2 separate regions of the Homo sapiens genome follow, and region 1 is linked to region 2. The links come from fine-mapping of genetic effects on gene expression. A gene starts in region 2. The other region holds a variant in brackets. All regions are shown on one strand. Distances are between the middles of the regions. Region 1 has its middle 80 kb from the start of NOS1. Region 2 holds the start of NOS1 (nitric oxide synthase 1).

Region 1 (2,799 bases), 80 kb after region 2:
CCACACTGTCCCCTCTTAAATCTCATGTGTCCCCAAAAGGTGGGCATTTATTAACCCACTTTGCAAGATGAGGAAACGGAGACTCAGAGAAGCTAAGCTTCTTCTCCAAGGTCACACAGTAGAAGAGCCAGAACACACATTCAGCTGTATCTGACATTGAGTCAGGGATTTTCATGGCCACCTGCAATATAGATAATGTCATCCCCATTTTTGAGATGAGGAAATTGAGGCTTAGAGAGGGGATGCCAGTTTTCAAAGTCACACAGCAAAGTACGGAACGTGGATTTGCCACCAGGTGTGTTGGGGCAGGTTGCCAGGGAAAGTAAAGTCCACTGCTAAAATACAAGCCTTCTTCCCTGACTCACATGTGTTCCTGCTTATATTAGGGCTCCAGGTTTGAGCCACAGTTTGGGGTTTAGGAGAAAGAGCACTGGACATAGAGTCAGAAAACCTGTGCCCAACTTGCTGTGTGACCTTGAGCAAGTTACTCCACCTCTCTGGGCTTGGCTGCAGCTGCTGTGAACCCCAAATGGGACATCACATGGAAAAGGCTTTGTGACTTGGGTTCACAGGGCAGGATGAGGGAGTACCAAAGTAGCCCCACTCTGCCCTGGGAGCCCTTGCCAAAGGCCCCCAACCCTGTTCTTTGTCTTTACTGCCAGCAGCGGGACTCAGCAGTGAGGAGTACACAGGTTCCGCAAGTGCACAGGGTTCAGATCCTGGCTCTGATTTGAGTCTCACAAACTGCGTGACCTTCAGAAGTCATTTTACTCTCTAGTCTCAATTTCTCCTTTCTAAAAATGTGCTCCCGGGCGCTCCCACCCTGCCTGGGCTGCGTGAAAATAAATGAGATAATACTCAGCACCTGCCTTTTTATTCAACAACATTTATTGAGCACCTACGAGACATGGGTCACTGTGCTGGGGATATAATTTTTACAGGAACAATATTCTTGTAAAAACAGTCAGTTGGCCAGGTGCGGTGGCTCACACACTTTGGGAGGCAGAGGCGGGCAGATCACCTGAGGACAGGAGCTCGAGACCAGCCTGGCCAAGATGGTGAAACCCTATCTCTACTAAAAATACAAAAAAATTAGCCGGACATGGTGGTGGGCACCTGTAATCCCAGCTACTCAAGAGGCTGAGGCAGGAGAATCACTTGAACCTGAGAGGTGGAGGTTGCACTGAGCCAAGAACATGCCGTTGCACTCCAGCCTGGGCAACAAGAGTGAAACTCCGTCTCAAAAAACAAACACACAAACAAAAAAAACCCCAAAAAACCAAAGTCAGTCACTCATGCCCCTGTGGTGGAGACAGACAAATGTAAAACCCCCACAAAAATAAATATTAATTCCTTGTGTTATGTGCTCAGCAAATAGAAGTAGCTATTATTGTTGTTGTTCACGCATTTATTCCACAGAAGAACTCACTGAGCACCTA[T/C]TATGTGCCAGGTACCCTTCTAAGCATTGGGGATATAGCAGTGACCAATGCAGACATGGCTGTCCACTTTAATAATTAACCGTGACAATAAATAGCAATAATTAGCCATGACAACATATAACAATAATAATTATTATATTACTATTCTCAGGCAATGCAGGTTCTCCCCAACACATTGGATGCCCTGGTTTTCTCACTGGTAGAATTACATACCTGTCTGCTGCCATCTGGCCCTCTGGGAGCTCCAAGCTAGAGCATGGGATTCCAGAATGTTCTTAGGTCTGATCCTCAGTGAAGCTCATGGGCTCTTTTTGGTCTGACTTGCGGGCACTCTGGCAGGCGCTCATCCCCCTGGCATAGACCCAGACCCCACGTGGGTTGGGAGAAGCTGAGCCTGTGACTCAGCCAGCCTGGCTTGTCAAGCAGAGATGAGAAGGGAGCAAGCAGCTGGCTGGGCTGTTAGCCATGGGGCCCTCCCAAGCCAGGCATAGGGCAGGTGCCTGGGGGACAGAGTGGGGCTTTGAGATGACAAGGGAAGGGCTCTAAGCTCAGGTGACTGCACCCTGGTGGTGGTGGCTGTCTCTAGTAAAGATAATTTTTTTTAGAAGGAGTCTCGCTCTGTTGCCCAGGCTGGAGTGCAGTGGCACGATCTCTGCTCACTGCCACCTCTGTCTCCCAGGTTCAAGCAATTCTCCAGCCTCAACCTCCCGAGTAGCTGGGATTACAGGCATGCACCACCATGCCTGGCTAATTTTTTTGTATTTTTCATAGAGACGGGGTTTTGCCATGTTGGCCAGGCTGGTCTCAAACTCCTGACCTCAGGTGATCCACCTGCCTCAGCCTCCCAAAGTACTGGGAATACAGGCATAAGCCACCACGCCTGGCTAAGAATATTCTTATAAGAATCACAGAGTATGCTGCCTTGTGAGCGAATGAGCTTCTCATCAATTAAATAACTCCAGCAGGATGCTATAAAGGGGACTCCAGAATTGCCTGTTCATCTGTCAGATGTATCCACCAGACTGAGCTCTACCTTCTGGGTCTTGTTTACACCATCATACCTCCAGTGTGTGGCACAGAGCACATCACATAGCAGTCGGCAAATATTTCTTATATTCATATATGCACAGATCAGAATGTTCTTTCTGGCTTTGACCACATGAGACTTTGACAACAAGTAGCCCTGCCATTTTATTCATTTGTCTCTTCATTCAACAAATATATCCTGAGCACCTACTATGTGCTGTCTCCTAGGCACTGGGGATATAGTAGTGATCAAGACTGATAAAAATTTCTGCCTTCGTGAAGTCTACCGTCTCACGATTGGAATTTCATTTTTATTTTTTAGAGACGGGGTATT
Region 2 (2,799 bases):
ATATTCACATTTATGATTTTTTAAGGTCCTCATGACAGCCCCACGAAAAAGGTAGTTTCTCCATTTTACAGATGAGAAACTGAGGCTGGGAAAGATGAAGAGACTTACCGAAGGTCACGCAACAAGTAAAGGGTCGATCTAGGACCAGAACCCAGGGGAGTCACTGGAAAGGTTCCTGCCCTCCTCGGCTGCCTTCTCCGTGAGAGCCTCTCCTCTCTAGATGTCTACCCCAGACAGCCTGATGCGGAGCTTGGAGAGCCATGAGCTCTCTGGTCACAGTGCCCTGGGGGTGGGGGCGAGCGTCTGGCGTCCTCTGGGGCGCAGTCCCGAGAGAGCCCCTTCCGGGACCTCGGACGCAAGGCCCCTGAGTGGCCCTGGAAGTTGGATCCCCCGGGGACCCTGCTCCGAACCCTGGCCACCTGGAAGCAACCTCATCGAGCGCTCCTTCCACTGCCCAGCCCCGAACCGTGGCGGAACGCGCCCCTCGGCCTCCCTAGAGCCTCCTTTGCGGGAGAAGCACAACTTTCCCAGGTTTTGGAGACGGCGCTCTTACACCCCAATCTCGCCCAGACGGAAGAAGTGAGAGGTGCGGGCGGCCCCGCCATGACCGCGGGAGGAGAGCGCAAGGAGGCTCCTCGCAAAGTTGGAGGCCAGGCCGGAGCGATGTTCCGGGAGCGGAGCCCTCCCAGCCTCGGGCCCCCAGCCGCGGACAGCTGGCAGTGCCAAAGACTCCGCCATTACCTGCGGCTCGCAGTTGCGATTCGGCCGCAGAGTCGGGCACCGAGGAAGGCGTAAAGTTGAGCTTGGGCAGGTACAACGGTCCCCAGGGACTGGCATCCCCCAGCCCGGGCTGCCCGCGGGAGGGTAGCGAGCTGTGCCAAGGGCTCCGCCATTACCGCCAGCGCACAGCTCGGAGCCAAGCGCGCGGCTGAGGAACGACTAGGGTCTTGCAAAGTTGGAGCCTGGGCGCGTAGACCCCCGGACCGGAGCCCCCGGCCTGAGGCCGCCCGCTAGGAGGAAAATGAGGCCGCCCGAACCAAGTTGGGACGCGCAGCAAAGCCCGAGCCTTCCGCGCACACCAGGGGCTCGGGCGGGAGCGGGGAGCCCTGGGGACGGAGAAGGGGCGCGGGACGCCTGGATCAGGAACTCACCTGACGCCGAGCCGGGCAGCGCCGAGGCTGCCTCTTCGCGCTGCGCACCCGCCCGCCCGCCTCGTACTCCTCCTCTTCCTCCCGGGCGCCCGCGGCCGCCGCGCTCCGGGTTCTGAATCCTCCGAGTCCGCCGCCCCGCGCGGCTGGAGGGCGCCGGTTGCACCCACTCGCCTCCTGGTAGGAGCCGCGCGCGTCCCTCCCCTTCCCCTCCGCTTTGTGCCTCCAAGATCCCTCCCCACCCCCTCTCCCCTAGCCCCCACTCCTCCCTTCTCTTCTTCCCTCCCCTTGCGTCCCCTCCCTCAGCCTCAGCGAACCCAAGTTCGGGACGGAGGCTGCGGGCTTCCCCGGCGCAGTGCTGGGCGCCCCGCGCGCGCCCCTGGCTCACCCCGTCCGCTCGGCCGCTGCTCGCTGCCCGGCCGCCCCTCGGAGGAGCCGCGGCGCTAAGTAGCTCCTCACCCAGCGGCTGGAAACGCGGCATAAATATGTAGGGACTGAGCCGTGAGCTCAGCGAGGGTCGTGAGGGGGAATTTATTTCTTAATGTCCCTCCTTTATCCTATCATCACTGAAACGAATTAGCAGTGACGTCCAACCCGACTGGTTTATGGGTGTGGGGAGGGAGACGTCGCAACCCTCATTAAAAGAGCCGCTCTGGGCTCCAAAGCATACATCTTTTATATAACCTAATTTCCATTTTTTTTTTTCTATCAGGAAACACACACACACACACACACACACACATACACACACACACACACACACACACACACACACAATGACAATTTCTGGGAGCCTGGATAGGGCTGAATGTAGTAGCCACGCAGGGCAGGGCAGGTCTATTTGGGCAGAGAAGGCCCCATGGGAGGCAGGGATGGTTATTTCTGCCTCTACATCAGTGTTGGGATAGCATTCCTTAATGGGACAGTGGAACACACAGCCTCCCAGGCTGGGCAGTGCTGGGAGCCCCTCCCAGGAGCCCGCAGAGGTTGCAGCCTGGGTTCTGGCCTTGGCTCTCGGGTGGACAGACGGAGAAAAGCAGCCTGTTCAGGAAATGTTGCCTGGTTCTGGTCTTTTCTGGAGCCACACTCAGGCCTGGCATCTGGGGAGAGTGAAGGATGGAGGGCACATGTTCATCTGTGGCCTGGGAGCCCCACAGGTGTGGAGAGGCCAAGGTCTGGGCTGGAGGAGGGAAGACACAGAGAACGCAGCTTCCCTTCCTTTCTTAGGGGCCCTAACATATGGGTAACCATATAAACCCGACTCAAAATCTGTCTTTTCCTGGGCAGATTGCAAAGGATTTTGCATCTCCCCGTTGCTGTTGCTGCTGCTCACACAGTCTTGGGAAAACGGGGGAAAATCAAGGAAAGAGAGGACACACACACGCGCACGCGCACACGCGCACATACACACACACAAACACACACACACACACACTTGGCACCTGGCTCTGGGTGATTTGATCTTTTCCTCCTCCCCAGCCTTGCCAAGCGGAGCAAACCCACTCAGGCTTCGAGTTGCGCAGAGAAGAGGCAAAGAGGAAAACCACCACCCCCTTTGTCACTAATAAATGCTTTTCAGATCGTCTTGCACATCCAGCAGGGGAGGGGGTGTGTGACTTTGGGGGCAGGAAGAAGGGTGTGGGGGATGAGG

What was found. PIP is the estimated chance that this variant, and not a neighbour inherited with it, causes the effect.
Region 1: its variant is the best candidate, but not a certain one, in a credible set for the expression of NOS1 in skeletal muscle (GTEx, PIP 0.60).

Annotation. Positions count from the first base shown.
Region 1 is chr12:117,440,080-117,442,878 of GRCh38, forward strand. No RefSeq gene overlaps it. Among named protein-coding and RNA genes, the nearest start is that of NOS1, 80 kb to the left of the region's middle. The variant T/C (reference allele first, on the strand shown) is at 1,440.
Region 2 is chr12:117,359,976-117,362,774 of GRCh38, forward strand. NOS1 (nitric oxide synthase 1) reads right to left here and starts at 1,651. Exons shown (of 29, transcript NM_000620.5): 1 at 1,537-1,651. RefSeq lists promoters at 1,152-2,799, 1,152-1,312, 1,537-1,609, 1,776-2,697.